Homo sapiens: one gene and its partner. The protein of the gene in region 2 interacts with the protein of the main gene of each other region in a pairwise test. Each region holds a gene or a part of one and is shown on either strand. Other genes may lie near its edges. The genes, in order: ZFYVE27 and OTOP3.

Region 1 (7,262 bases), on a different chromosome or scaffold from region 2:
CCTGGCTCAGATCAGCAGCGCTGAGAGCTGAGCCACATACAATTATGGTGGAAACCTAGAGTAGCTAGGTTGACCTGGGAGCTGCTGTGCTCCTGAGGAAGGGCCCTCCTGCCTGCTGTCAGATGGGAGCAGGGTAAGGGGGCAGTACTGTGTGTTCTGGTGTTGAGTGAGTTCTAGGGTCTGTGCCCTGGAAGAAGACAATGGAGTTTATCTTGAGGAATTTGACTCAGGGCCCCCAGGGTCCTGCCTTCCTACCCCTGCAGCAGCCAGGGCAGTTGTTTTCTCAGGATTAGATGTCCTGGACAGGCTCTTTCTTTCTGCTGTGTGAATGTCCCCCAGTTATTCAAGATCCCTTTTTTTTTTTTTTTTTGAGACAAGGTCTCACTGTGTCTCCCAGGCTGGAGTGCAGTGGCATGATCACAGCTCACTGCATCCTCGACTTCCTGGGCTCAAGTGATCCTCACAGCTCAGCCTCCCGAGTAGCTGGGACTACAGGCATGTAGCACCATGCCTGGCTAATTTTTGAATTTTTTTTGTAGAGACAGGGTCTTACTTTGTTCCTCAGGCTGGTCTTGAACTCTTGGGTTTAAGTGATTCTTGTACCTTGGTCTTCCAAAGTGTTAGGATTACAAGTGTGAGCCACCACGCCCGGCCCCTTTGTTTTATTTATGCTGCCTGCTGACTTCTGCAGGGCATTCTGTATGTTCAGTGATCTGTTTACCCTCCATACTTGCACATGTGTGATCTCATTTCATCCTTACCGTAGGTGTGACAGGAGCAGGCAGTTCTTAAGGGTTCAGAGCAGCCAGATTCCAGCAGTGCCCGGTAACACTACACACAAGAAGTATTACTCTGGTCCAGCAAATAATTTGTCTATTTCTACAACTTCTAAGTAAAGGTACTTAGCTGTTCCCATTTTACAGATGAATAACCTGAGGTAAAAAGAGTGCTTTGCCCAGAGACTTTGGCCTGGAAATGGTGGAGCTGTGACTCAAATTCAGGTTGTCTGATTCGGCTCTTGTCTTCTTTCTACCTCTTCATCCTCCCTCTCTGTTTTCCCTTTGCCCTTGCGTGTGAAGTCCCTTGTTTTATGCCTGTCCCGCTTTTGTATTTGATTTTTGGTTTGGATAATCTCTACCAGCATGGGCAGAGGCCTTTTCAGCCTCCCTCAAGGATGGCAAGGGCAGAAAGTGCTTCTTTTCCTAAACTCCTCTTAGTTCCTCATCCTTCAAGACCACTTGCTACTTTCCCTTTTCTGAGATGTTCCCAAGCTCTTTGCCATGAGGGCAGGTGTAGCAGCTCTGCTCCTGCGGCCTCTGCTCCTGAACCTGGGTCCTGAGAGCAGGGCGAGGGGAGCTGCTTTGGGGGCTTTCTCCATTTCAGCGACTATAACGAAATACACTAAGCTGGGGGGCTTTTAAATAATGGAAATCTCTCATCACAGTTCTGGAGGCTGGAAGTCCAAGATCAGGGTGTCAGCAGGATCAGGTTCTGGTGAGGTCCATTTCCGTCGTCATAGACAGCACCTTCTCACTGTGTCCTCATGAGAAGGTGGGAGGGGCACGGCAGTTCTCTGGGGCCTCTTTTATAAGGGCACTAATCCCATTCACGAGGGCTCCACCCTCATGACCCGGTCACCTCCCAGGGGCCCTGCTTTGGGTGTTAGGATTCCACATGTGAATGTTAGGGGACTGTGGTGGGGGCTATTCTATTTACCCCTGCCAGTGGATGAGGGGGTGCATGGGGAGAATGAGGGCAGACTGCAAAGGAGCTTCTCTGTGGCCTCCGTATGGGAGAGGTCTTGGTGGGGAGGGCCCCCCTTTGTCCTGGAGGCTCCATGACTGTTGCCCTGGCAGGCCCCACTGGGCCTTAGTGCCCCTGCTGTCATGGCCTCGGTGGCATCGTCACGTGGTGAGTGAGGATGGGTGAGTCCAGGCTGTTGCTGAGAAGGGGCAGAAAGAGTTGGTAGGTGTTGGAAGGGAACGTCACCTGGCTGAGCTGCTCTCAGCTCCCAGAGCCCTCCCTGGCTCCGGTCTGTGAGTGGGTTCACAGCTGTCTCCCCAGCCCACTTGGCTGCCCTGGGGTGCTTGGCCCTGACATTCCATTCAGTTTAGAGGAGACCTTGGGCTCAGGTCAGTGTCAGTCTTTGAGTAGCTCCTTTTGCCTGTCCCATTCCCCTTGTGTCCCTTGCTAAGGAGAGGCTGGGGCAGGCTGCCTTCCCCAAATTCTTGGTGTAGGGACAGAATCTTGGAGCAGCCAGTTTCCTGGTTTGGCACCAGCAGTAGGCTTGTTCTTCTCTTTCCCTGGCTGACTGACAGGGTGGGCATTTACCTGAAGCACCTTGGCCTCAGATTTCCCCTGGCTCTAGCAGAGGTCTTCCTTTCCCTGAACCTAGGGAGTCTCCTTTAGCAAGAACTTCAGGTGATTTTGGCTGGACAGAGGAAGGGACCACATGTAGCCGTCAATAAAGCTTTGGGGCCTTTCTGTGAAAGTGAGGCCTGGTGCTCTGTACTTGCCCAGACAGGTGGTCCGGCTGGGTCATAGCAGGCCTATGGGCCCCACATCCCAGAAACCTCATTCTCTGTCTCTCCTCTCCCCTTACACCCCCTTGTTGTCTTCTAGCCATTTTCTAAGCTGCCGTTGCCCCTCCACTGTTGCCGGGCACTTGGCCATCTTGGCATCTCTGGTGGTTTAGGCAGGACCTCTCCCTGCTCTGCGTCCCCCCATGCCACTCACTGCCCACCACAATTGAGCATTCTACCCTTCGTGTCTTTACAGTTGAGCATTCTACCCTTCATGTCTTCTTGGAATGTGCCTGGCTCTGAGTTTCTCTCCTGCAGTCTTCAGGGGACAGAAAGCAGGAGTTTAGGTTTTTAGGAGTTTCTGTCTTTAGCCTGTGGGTGGAGTATTTGTAAGGCATTGCTCCGGAAAGGGTCATGTTAGGCAGGTGTCATTTGGGGATGCCTGTGGTCAGGTCCCTGCCAGCTTAGCTGGCTTTCTTGGAGTGGATTCTGCTGGGTGCTCTTTGATTTCTGTTGAACCTGTAGGTAGGGCCACTCAGCTCTGGAAGGGTTCAGGGACTGGTAGCTATGTATGGCTGGAGACATCAGTCCTCAGGGGCTATCAGTCTTCTTAGTTTGAGTCCTTCTTTCTGTCTCTGAATCTGGCCTTGCTCCCTGGCTCACTGTGTCCAGCCAAGGAGGCTGGGCTGGTGTCCTGAGTGTCCCATTTAGAAGCGCCAGGAGCAGGTGAGCGTGAGAGTCCTGGGATGGGCGGGGGTTGAGCTGCTGCCTCTGTTTCTCAGGGAACTGCACGGGCTGCTCGGCCACCTTCTCAGTGCTGAAGAAGAGGGTGAGTGTCTGTGAGGGTGCATTTGTTGGGGACAGTGTCCTTGGGACTGTCGGGTGGGGAGGAGTTGAGGGGAGTCATTGAGAAAGTCTGGCTCGGGTCACATTGGGCCTGGCAGTGGCTTTCTGGAGTGAGTGTGCCCTCCCCTGCGCCTGTGCCACCTTTTACCAGCCTCCCCAGGGGGTATTCCATTTGCTCTCTTTCCTGCTCCACTTGGGCACCCCCCAGGCCCAGTTTCCTTGGGTGGGATCAGCTGGTGGAAAGGAGGGAGGTGCTGAGAACTCCAGGTACCTGAGGGTGAGGGACACATCTGACCTTGGCTCTTGTCTGCAGCGGAGCTGCAGTAATTGTGGAAACAGCTTCTGCTCTCGATGCTGCTCCTTCAAGGTGCCCAAGTCCTCCATGGGGGCCACAGGTGAGTGGTGCAGGTGGTGGGAGGGCTTGGTTGGTATCCCGCCCAGGGGATGTCACGCTGTGGCACAGAGGCAAGGGTGTCAGAGGTCAAGGGAACTTGGGATTGTAGTCAGGCCTACGGGAACGTTTCCTCCATCCCCTTTAGCAAAATCCTGAAACATTTGGTACATGCCGAAGAATAGATATGATGTACCTGTGAATTGTGAAGGGTAATAACAAGATGAATACCTGTGGCTGCTTCACTAAAGTTGAAAAACAAGAGCCCTGGCAACACCCCCGCAGCTCCCAGCACTGCTCCTGCCTTCCTGGAGTCAATCACCAGCCGCAATTTTAATCTTTTTCTTATTTCCTTGGCACTTTGAACAAAACTAAAAATTCCTTTTTTTCCTTTTATAAAATATAAAATATTTCCTATACATATTGTAAATAAAAAACACAGATAAGCAAAAGGAAAAAAAATTCCTGATTTCTTCCTGAGAGAACAATCGGGCATGGACCCTGCTGCTCATTAGCTTGCATGTAGAATAAAAGCACATGCATATTCCTGAAAAATGTGGTCACATTTCATGTACCGTTTTGTAGTATAATGTTAAACCAAGTTTTTTTTTTTTTTTTTTTGAGACGGAGTTTCACTCTTGTTGCCCAGGCTGGAGTGCAGTGGTACGGCCTTGGCTCACCACAACCTCTGCCTCCTGGGTTCAAGCAATTCTCCTGCCTCAGCCTCCCGAGTAGCTGGGATTACAGGCATGCGCCACCACACCCGGCTAATTTTGTATTTTAGTAGAGACGGGGTTTCTCCATGTTGGTCAGGCTGGTTTTGAACTCCTGACCTCAGGTGATCTGCCCGCCTCGGCCTCCCAAAGTGCTGGGATTACAGGCGTGAGCCACCGCCCCCAGCCCAAGTTCTTTTTTCTTCCGATGCAAGTAACATATGCTTACTAACTAGAAAATTTGGAAATTATTATACAGAGGACGAAGGAAGAGAAAAATAACCCTGTAATTTTACCACCCAGAGGTAACCACTGTTAAAACATTTTGGGAAATTTCACTGTGATATTTTACTTATTCTGTTTTTTTGAGACAGAGTCTCGCTCTGTCGCCCAGCCTGGAGTGCAGTGGCGCCATCTCGGCTCACTGCAACCTCCGCCTCTTGGGTTCAAACAATTCTTGTGCTTCAGCCTCCTGAGTAGCTGGGATTACAGGCGTGCATCACCATGCCTGGCTAATTTTTGTATTTAATATTTTATTTAAAAATTTTTGAAGGTGTTCTGTTGGTGCCACAATAATGTCTAATTCATAGCACAGGAGTGGCCTGCTGTTGGCATCATCACCCCCAGGATCCCCAGTTCCCATGGAAAGAAGAATCTCTGCGGGCAGGCTAGCAAGCTGGGCAGGGAGGGTGTGGGCTGGGTGGGGGGTCTGTGTGGGGCATTTGGGAGGGTGCTTCTAGTAGTTGGGGCCATGAACCAAAGGGCGCAAGGAAATGTCTCACCAAGTTCTTCCTCCTTTTCAGCCCCTGAAGCCCAGAGGGAGACTGTGTTTGTGTGTGCCTCGTGTAACCAGACCTTGAGCAAGTGAGAAGAGAGGCCAGGGTCCAACCAGGCACCCGTCCTTGGGACCAGCAGTAGACCCCCCACTCTCCCCACCCCTGGCCCACTGTGGTGTGTGCTGGGCAAATGTGGCCTGAATGCTAGGTAGGCTTCCCCTTCCTTCCTCACTCTCTCCAGCTGGATTCTGGAGCTGTTCTCCATCCATGAGAGTGGCTGGCAATGGCTGCTCTCAATCCCTTGAGGGAGAAGAGCCCCTGGAGGGCCTGGCATGTTTGTCCTGCTCTGCCTGGGACTGAGCGAGTGGACTTAGGGCTGGGCAGGCAGTAGCCACCAGAGGGCAGCAGCGAACTAGGCCAGGCCTGACTGGGGTCTGAAGATCAGGGTCAGTGTGGCTGTGCCTGGGAATTCCAGACCTGAGGTTGGGAAAAGAGGTTTTTCTCCTGCAGGGTACTGGGCCAGGCCCTCAGCCTCAGAGAGCCTGCAGAAGGGCTTGGGAGTGCCACACCCCATCTCTGCTGATTGAATGTCCCTCCAGGCACCAGGATCTCATCATTTCCCCATCAGAGGGTGTGGCCAGGCCTAACAAGACCATGGGTGCTTCTAGAAACAGGGTTGAAGTTCCCAGATTCCCTGAGAGGAGAATGTGTATAGGAGGGTTTGGCTGAGTCCTTCAGCGTTAAGTGGAGGAAAGCTTGGGGAAGCCCCAATAGCTGGACAGACCTCGGCCTCCCCTCGAAGACACCTCAATTCACAGACTCTCAGCCCACACAATGCCCCAGTGTCCCCAGCTCCGCTGGAGCAGCTGCAGGGCACTTGGATCACAACTTCTGCACCCTCTGTCCAGAGTCTAGGGCAGTCCTCCACTGGCCCAGCACTCCAGTTTCCTTTCCCTGCCTCTTGTCCAATGGAGTGGGAGGCCAGGTGAGTGGAGCAGAGGTCCTGAAGCCCTTGACCCCTGGGGGCCTGGGTAGTGTAGGATCTCGCTGGGCTGGGTCCTGGATTCCAGGGCTATTCCCTGGAGGACAGTCTCAGTTATGGGATAAGGCCCCCTGGGGGTCTCCATTTCTTTCCAACAGTTTCATGTTCACTACTGGACTCTTACGGGCTCAGTATCTCTCCCTTAGCCATGAGCTGGCTCAGGCATCCCTTCCCTTCCCTGGAGCTGCCCTGCCTTTCTCAAGTATTTATTTATTTATTGCATGGTTCCTGGGAACATGTGGCACAAGTAATGGGATGAGGAGGAATTGGGGGTGGGGGTCTTCTACCTAGGACTCTTCCCTGGAGTCATGGGCTGCCTGGGACCCAGGACCCATGAGGGGGCTGAGAGGTTTCTACACTCGAGGAGCAGGGGTCCAGAGAGGCAGGCTGGGGAGGCAAGGGACCCATCCTAGGCCCGCTTTCTTGCCGAGCCAAGCAGCTTAGCTGGGGCTGTGCAGCCAGGGGCTTACCCAGGCCAGTGGAGGTGCCACAGCCCTGGGGAGCCAGACAGGCTTTGGTATCGTATCGCCTCTGTGTCCTTTTAAGAGAGGAGAGTTCAGTACCCCGTGCTTTCTTTACACTGGAGAGGAACTAAAAGGATCTCTGTGTCTATGGAGAATTGTCAATAAAAAGGCCTCAAGCTTCTTGTTTTTGTCATGTCTTTGTGTTGGCATTTTCCCTGAGGCTGGAAGACCAGATCTCTCTGGCACTGCTGGAGTTTTGCAGGCCTGGGCAATTCCTGCAGGACCAGGCTGAGGGGCGGGCCTTTGGGGCACCATGGTGGCAGGGGCGTGGGGGCTGCAGCCTGGTCTGGGTATGAGCTGGGGGCCAAGAGGAGGAAAGCTGTGCCTTGCACGCAGGAGAGGCTCAGCAAATGCTTGTCGGATTGACTTGAGGCCCAGTCTTGTGACCCAATTGTGAGGGCCCAGCACTGGGGGTTGGGGTTGGGACTAGAACTTGGTAAACCCCAAA
Region 2 (7,615 bases):
AGTGATCCTCCTGTCTCAGGTTCCCAAAGTGCTGGGATTACAGGTGTAAGCCACCATGCCTGGCCCTGATTTTTCTTGACCTCAACCACTACCTAGTCTGGGCCCCCTTCCTTGCTCTCTTGGACTGGTCTTCTTGCCCAGAGTGCCTCTCCCCTACTTAAAGTCCTGCAAAGGCAACTAATTGCCCTCAGTATAAAGTCCAAATTACTGACACAGCCTGCATGGCCTCTCAAAATGAGAGGTGTATGATTAGTATGGGCCTGGACAAGGTTCCAGGTTCTCTGCCCAAGGCAGAGTAGCTGCTGCTGCTTCCTGGTCTGGCTTCAACTTACCCCTCTAGCATTGTCTTTGACCCTACTCCCCTCTCCTTGGGCTATACCATCTTGCTGCACTTCCTGGAACGCCCCCAGTCTTTGCCCACACCCTATTCTTTGCCTTTAATGCCTACCCCTTTTGCCCCTTGGGTAACTCTAGCTTGTCCTTCAGGACTCGGCAGAGACCCTGCCTCCTCTCTGCGGCCTTCCCTCGTCAGCATTCCCACCTCACCCCACGCTGACCACCCATCGTCCTCTGCTTCCATTAGCTGTGCTTTGCTCTGTCTCTCCCTTGAGACCCCAGGCTTCAGGAGCTTCAGACGTGCCCTCTATGCAACACCAGAAGACTCTCACCATATCTGGCTTGAAAATGCAACCTCTCCGGGCTCCCATTCTCCCCTTGTCATATTCTCCCATTCTCCACCTGCTCCATATTTATACCTTCTGCTGTTCTCTTCTGGGGCAGATGGAGCACTAAAACTTAAGCCTCTTTTCAAGATTCTATAAATGATTTTCTCCCCTTTCCCACTCCACTCTGTCATCCTTGCCTAAGTTCTGTCTCCTCCCTGTCCCACCACCCCTGCCGTACTCAAGGCACCTGCCTCCCACACCAACCCAGGCCCAGGTAGAAAGTTCTGCGTTTCTCCCATGGTCTCCTGCCTCCTGCCATCCCTCCTGGACACTGCTCTTCTTTCTGCCTCCCCCACCACTCGCCCATCCTCCCCACCCACCTGGAAAGCCTTCCTCTCTGCCTAAGCCTTCTGGTGCTACTTTGCTGGGGCCACTCCCCTCTATTGAGAGGTGTGCCCTGTTTGGTGTGCTGTGGGTGTGGCTGGCTCCCATTAAGTCCTGAAACTCCTCCAGGACAGAGACCGGGTCCTGCTTAACTTGGACCCCCCAAACCTAGTGCAGATGTGACATTCACCCAGTGATTGCCCACTGACTCTGGCATCTTTTGGGAAATTTTCAGCACCAGAGCTGTGGACAGAGACCCTTCCCATTAAACTCTTTCCGGGCTGGCTGGGGAGGAGACTCCCGATGATCTTTATCTTTCCCTCCTAAGCTCCCCCACCCAAATTGAGCAAGGCTGGGGCTCACCGGGATGTCTCCCTGCTCCATATATCCCAACTGTAACTGCTCTACTTCACCTTCCCCAAAACCTGCACCCTCTCCTCCAGCCCCCAAGCAGGGTAGATTAATGATCAAGTGCTCAGATTCCAGCACTTATTACCTCTGTCATCTTAGACTACTGAGACTACTACAGAGAGCTACTTAGACTCTGTGCCTGAGTGTTGTCATCTGCAAAACTGATATACAACTATGGAATAGTAGCTGGTGCATAGTAGATGCTCAATAAAGACTTCCGGAACGAGGCTGGCTGCAGTGGCTCACGCCTGTAATTCCAGCACTTTGGGAGGCTGAGGTGAGCGGATCCCTTGAGCCCAGGAGTTGGAGACCAGCCTGGGGAACATGGCAAAACCCTGTCTCTACAAAAAATACCAAACAATTAGCCAGGTGTAGTGGCATGCACCTGTAGTCCCAGCTACTCGGGAGGCTGATGTGGGAGGATTGCTTCAGCCTGGGAGGCTGAGGCTGCAGTGAGCTGTGATCGCCACAGTGAACTCCAGCCTGAGGGACAGAGTTAGACCCTGTCTCAAAAAAAAAAAAAAAAAAAGGGTGGGGGGGTGATGAATGCCGAATAGGGGCTTTGTCAGAATGACATGATTTAATACATGCACGAAGCACGGGCAGAGAGTAATGCCGGCAATGCCTGGCACCTGGAAAACTCAGTGTTGGCTATCTCTGCATTTCCTTCCAGTTCTTTTGAGGTCCTGGAGAGCTGGGAAGGGTCGGGATTACTGGTGAAATTTCAAGGGTGAATTTTATTCAGACTGGAGGCCTGGAGGGGACACTGGGGGACAAGGTTCCAGGTTCCCTTCCTCTGGGGTCTTTGCCCTGACAGTATCCCCCGTCTCCCACCCTGAAGTCCAGCCCTCCAAAGGCCGCTGGCGTGAGCCTTCAAAGGAGCGAATTTGGTCCCGGGCTGGGCAGGGGGCAGGAGTGGGCATTTAGGGGTCTCGGGCAGAAGGCTGGGGCAAGGGCACCTGGAACTGACAAGCAGTACTCTGCCGCCCCCTGGCACGCCCCTGGGCGCGACGCCAGTCCAAGGGAGGGCCGGGACACTGGACTGGTTTGTGGGTCTCGGCTGGATTGGCGATGAAAGCCGCGGAGCCGTCGGGCCCGGCGCCCGGCCCAGCAGCGCAGGGCCGGCTCCGAGGAGGCTGCTGAGTGCGGGCGCCCTCGGGATTTCCTTCCGAGCCATTTTAGGGACTGCGGGGCCGGGGCAGCCGCTTCCTGCGTGCCCCAGACCGGGCGTCCAGACAGCCCCAACCAACCTCACACCCCAGGCCTCCGCGCTTTCTGCTGTGTGGACCCGGCCGGGAGGAGTCGCGCCCTGAGGCCCTCTGTGCTCCCCGGGTCCACGGAAAGGAGTAGGGGCGCGGAGCGCGGGTTGCGGGGCGGGTGGAGGGGCCGGCCTCAGATTAAAGGGAGTTCACCTCTCCACAGTCACCCCGCTTTCCCGTTCCAATCCCTGCAGCCCCTACTTGTGAACCCCCCTTTTGGGGGGGTGGGTAGTATGTGCCAGTGTCTGGGGTGCGCAAGCTGGGAAAGTTCCGCCGGCGCTCCGGGCTTACCTGAGGCCGGGAGAGGCATCGCCGTGGGCTAACCACCGACTGCGGGCGCTGAGCGGATCGTCCGTCCAGGTGAGACCGATGCCCGCGACGCCCTCCCCCAGCGGGACTGCGCAGCCGCCGCTCGGGCTCCGCGGCCCATCGATTTTTCTGTTGACTTTGGAAATCTCATTAATCCCTCGTTAATTACCCTCCCGGGGGCTCGGACCCAGAGGGTGCAGCCAATTGCGAGGCAGCTGGACAAGCGGGCGGGGCTGAGGGCTGTGCAGGCGCGGGCCTGCAGGGTCTCCAACTCGCAGCCCGCCCTCGGATGGGGTGGAGAGGGGTGCAGTGTTCTTAGGTCCGCAGTAAAGAGCTTGCGGAATTCAGGCCTCGTTTTCCTTTGGTGATCAAGCTGGGAATGGACGCCCTCCCTCCAGGCCTGGAGTCGCTTTTTCCTGTACCCTACCTAGCCCCAGGCCTGGAGGCCGCCTAGCAGGACCCTGTGTTTCCCTTAAGTCAAACCTGAACTTGGTGGGGAGAGTTGGAGCACAGCCCCATTCTGACAGGGGAGGAGGCCTCCTCAGCTCCACCTGCGGCCTCTGAGAACTACTCACCTCCTTCTGCTGACAGGGTCCAGGCACACTTTCCTCAAAGTCCCCTGAGCTCCCAGTGCTGCTGTTCCCATGATCTCCCCCAAATGCCATCTGCTCCATGGGTCCCGCCCAGCCCTCCCTCTCCCAGCCCTTCCCCTCCCTCTGCCTCTGCATGCTCACCACCACCTTTCACTCTTCTAACTGTGGAGCCTCCTTCCCATCTCTCTGCTGTCTTCCCTCCTAAGCATCTCTATACCCTTTGTAGAGTAGAAACCCTAGGGCTTAGGGGAAACTCCTCGGGGACCTCCTGGGGCAGGGGGAAGTCAAGTGGTGAGGATCTGAGACTCCCAACTCCTTTTAAATTAGAACTGCCTTGTTTATATCTTTTTTGTTTGTTTGTTTTTGTTTTTGTTTTAGACAGGCTGGAGTGCAGTGGCATGATCTCGGCTCACTGCAACCTTTGCCTCCTGGGTTCAAGTGATTCTCCTGCCTCAGCCTCCTGAGTAGCTGGGATTACAGGCGCACGCCACCATGCCCGGCTACTTTTTGTATTTTTTAGTAGAAACAGAGTTTCGCCATGTTGGCCAGGCTGGTCTCGAACTCCTGACCTCAAGTGATCTGCCTGCCTCGGCCTCCCAAAGTGCTGGGATTACAAGCGTGAGGCACTGCACACAGCCTATATCTATGTTATAAACTTGTGTTCCTGTAATATTTTATTTGAAGGGAAAAATGTTCTGCTTGAAAACAAAGTTTGAAAATTATTGTTCTTAGCAGAAAGGCTCTGGATTTTTTGCAGGTGTGTGACCTTGGGCAAGTCACTTTACCTCTCTGGGCCTCAGCTTCCTTCTTTGTAAAATGCAGACATTAGACTAGGTCACTGCTTCCTAAACTTTCTTCTGTCATGGGACACACACAAAGAAAATGATTAGGTTGAGTGCTGTGGCTCATGCCTGTAATCCCAGCACTTTGGGAGGCTGAGGGGGGAGGATCACTTGAGCCCAGGAGTTCAAGACCAGACTGGGCAACACAATGAGACCCTCATCTCCACACACACACACACACACACACACACACACACAATTTAGCCAGGCGTGGTGGCAGTAGTAGCTGTAGTTCCAGCTACTCAGGAGGCTGAAGTGGGGGGGTCTCTTGAGTCCAGGAGGTTAAGGTTGCAGTGATCTATCTGCACTCCAGCCTGGGCAAAAAGGTGAGACACTCTCTCAAAAAAAAAAAAAAAAAAAGATTATATGTATATGCCACCTGGAGATAAAGGGAAGAGGAAGATGGCAGTTTGGGAACTCCAGTTACCCACCCTGTAGCTAGTCTGTCATTTGGATTTTGCTCACACACTGCAAAACTTGAGACCTGAAAATCTCCAGGGGCCCTTCCCGCTCTGACTCCCAAGATCCTCTCCTGTGACCACCTCAGACGGGACAACAGAGACAAACAGTGGGGATGGGGGCAAATCACAGGTTTATTGGTTTCCAGCTCCGGGCAGTACACTGGCCAGGCCACAGCAGGGGATTAGAGATGGAACCAGAGCCGGCACCTCCAGATCTTGTTGGGTCCTAGAAATGCTGCCAGGAGAGGTCTCCCTTCCCCAGTCACCTCATGCCCCACGGTCATACTGGGGTGGATGGGCCTGTCCTGACTGTGATTTAAAAATTGAACCTGGAAAAATAACTTTTGTGAAAATTCCACTCTGGGACCAGAAGGAAATGGGCTGTCATATGGCACCAGCTGGGATTCATTCCCAGAGGGTGTCTGAGTGGGCACATGAGCTGAGCCCCCTCTTCCTGCCCCCCATGCCTCTGTTGGAGGCCTCAGGACAGCACGTAGACCTCCAGCAGGCTGGACACAGCGTGCATGCGGTAGAAGATGCCGAAAGGGAGGCAGATGTTGACGATGACCGCCCAGAGGGAGTAGCCGTAGAAATCCACCTCCACTGTGTTGCTGAAATGAGGGCGGGCCCCGAAGGCAGGCATGATCCACAGCTGTGTGGAGAGAGGAGCATTTCAGGAGCTGGCCTGGATGGATGCCTGTGGGTCATTTCTGTGGGTTTTGCTGGGCCGTGGCTAGATGGCGGCCCATCCTTCTAGCTTGGTGGACACGGAGGGCTGGGTGTCAGTGAATGGGCAGCTCTAGCATTTTGGACAGGACCTAGCACACTCTAAGGGGCTCAGGAAGTGAGCCCAACTGAATTCGCCATCCCTAGGCTAGCCCACCTCATGGACACCTGTGATCACCTCTCCCAAAATCTTAGCAGGGCCTCAATGTGGGATTGGGGAGGGGAGAAGAGGTTTCTCTAGAAGAAGAGGTACAAACAGTGAAATCAGCAGCTCTGTCCTGGGGGGTTTTGTGCACAGGGGTGGGGGTGGCAGAATCAGATAGGCTCAAGGCAGGGGTTTGGGGTTCAGACAGAAGGCCACCCCACCCCAGCCCTCCTTGAGCTCTGCCCTCCAGCTCTCCCCTCATCCCCTTCTCCCTTTCCAGGAGTGGGAGGAAGTGGAAGTTGGAATCCTGCTTCCTCTCTGGCTAGGAGCTCAGAAGATTCAGGTGTGGGTAAGAAGCAAAGAACAAAGGTTTCTAGGCTAGCTCCACCCCTACCCCTGATTAACTTCATCCTTGGGCACATTGCAGTCCCCTCTAAGCCTGTTCTGTCCTATAAAATGAAGGAGATGGAGAAGATGCTACTGGAGGTGATTTAGGCTCAGATGCCTGGAGCAAGAATAGCCTCCCAGAAGGTGGCCCCTAGCCTATAAGCCAGGCCTGGGTGGAAGGTGGAGGTGGGGCCAGAGGGCAGGGGGCCAGGTACCAAAGACGTTCCAAGACATGCTGAGGTCTGGACCTTAATGATTCTGCTGGTAGGGTCAGAGATTGATGACCACATTTTTTTTAAGTGAAATTGATTGTGTTGGAAGGCTCCTGCGTGGCATCATCCCACATCTATGGGGACCATGACCTGGTGGATGGCCCTTCACAGTGGGACCTCACTAAGAATGACTCTTAGTTAGGGCCACTGGTGTACCTCATGCAGGTAGGATTTCATGGGGTAGAATTCACTCTGGGGCTCTTGCTCTGTCCTGGGATATACCCACATTAAGTAATTTTCTATATTAGGGATATTTTTCTATTGGAGGTTCTAGCTGGAAGGATTGTTTTTCTATTGAGTGAAACTTCATTAGAATTGTTTTTTTCTCTTTGAGATGTACCCACATAGGTACATGTTTCTATATCAGAGGTAATAATAAGCCCCCACTGGGCCATTTCTGTCTTGGGTTGTACTAGAAACACCAGGAGTGTTTTCCTATTGGTATGCACTTTCATTACCAGTGTTTCTGCCCTGGGGTACTTCTATACAGAGAATATATTTGTATTGGGTGAAGTCTATTGCTTTTTTTTTTTTTTTTTTTTTGACAGAGTGTCACTCTGTTGCACAGGCTGGAGTGCAATGGTGCAATCTCAGCTCACTGCAACCTCCGCCTCCTGGGTTCAAACAATTCCCTTGCCTCAACCTCCCAAGTAGCTGAGATTATAGGGTGCGCACACTACCACGCCTGGCTAATTTTTGTATTTTTAGTGGAGACAGGGTTTCACCCTGTTGGCCAGGCTGGTCTCGAACTCCTGACCTTGTGATCTGCCTGCCTCGGCCTCCCAAAGTGCTGGGATTACAGGCGTGAGCCACTGCACCCGGCCAAGTCTGTTGTTCTTAATCTTTGCTGAGTCACTAGGGAGGGGGTGGCTGTTGTAGATGCCCTCCTTCCCAGTTCACTCTGCTAACAGACCGCTCACACTTAACACTGGTCTCCGCTACTTCCTGACACTGTTCCAATTATTCTGAGAAGCAGGCAGATCACAAGTTCCCAGGAGCAGTCACACCTCCCACTGGGGGGTGAGGACCCCGCCTTCCACATCAGCTCTCAGCTCCCTCTCACCTCTGCCCAGCCCCTGTGTCAACCTTCCCTGGGACCCTTCCAGCTCCATCTGCTGCTTAGATGCCAGAACGCTAGGATTTCATTTTCTCTGTGTGCCC

Evidence for each region.
Region 1: the proteins of OTOP3 (region 2) and ZFYVE27 interact in binary tests that used the Homo sapiens proteins (3 or more experiments, as listed by UniProt).

The regions. Positions count from the first base shown.
Region 1 is NC_000010.11:97,753,961-97,761,222, forward strand, and holds the end of ZFYVE27 (protrudin), read left to right. Parts: intron 1-766; coding exon of another isoform or gene 767-792; exon of another isoform or gene 793-3,304; coding exon 3,305-3,351; intron 3,352-3,681; coding exon 3,682-3,763; intron 3,764-3,907; coding exon of another isoform or gene 3,908-3,918; exon of another isoform or gene 3,919-4,221; intron 4,222-5,275; coding exon 5,276-5,340; 3' UTR 5,341-6,935; downstream 6,936-7,262. UniProt on the Homo sapiens protein: Key regulator of RAB11-dependent vesicular trafficking during neurite extension through polarized membrane transport. Promotes axonal elongation and contributes to the establishment of neuronal cell polarity.
Region 2 is NC_000017.11:74,931,336-74,938,950, reverse strand, and holds the start of OTOP3 (proton channel OTOP3), read right to left. Parts: upstream 3,044-7,615; 5' UTR 3,030-3,043; coding exon 3,011-3,029; intron 1-3,010. Other genes in the region: proton channel OTOP2, read right to left, coding at 5,406-5,576. UniProt on the Homo sapiens protein: Proton-selective channel gated by extracellular protons.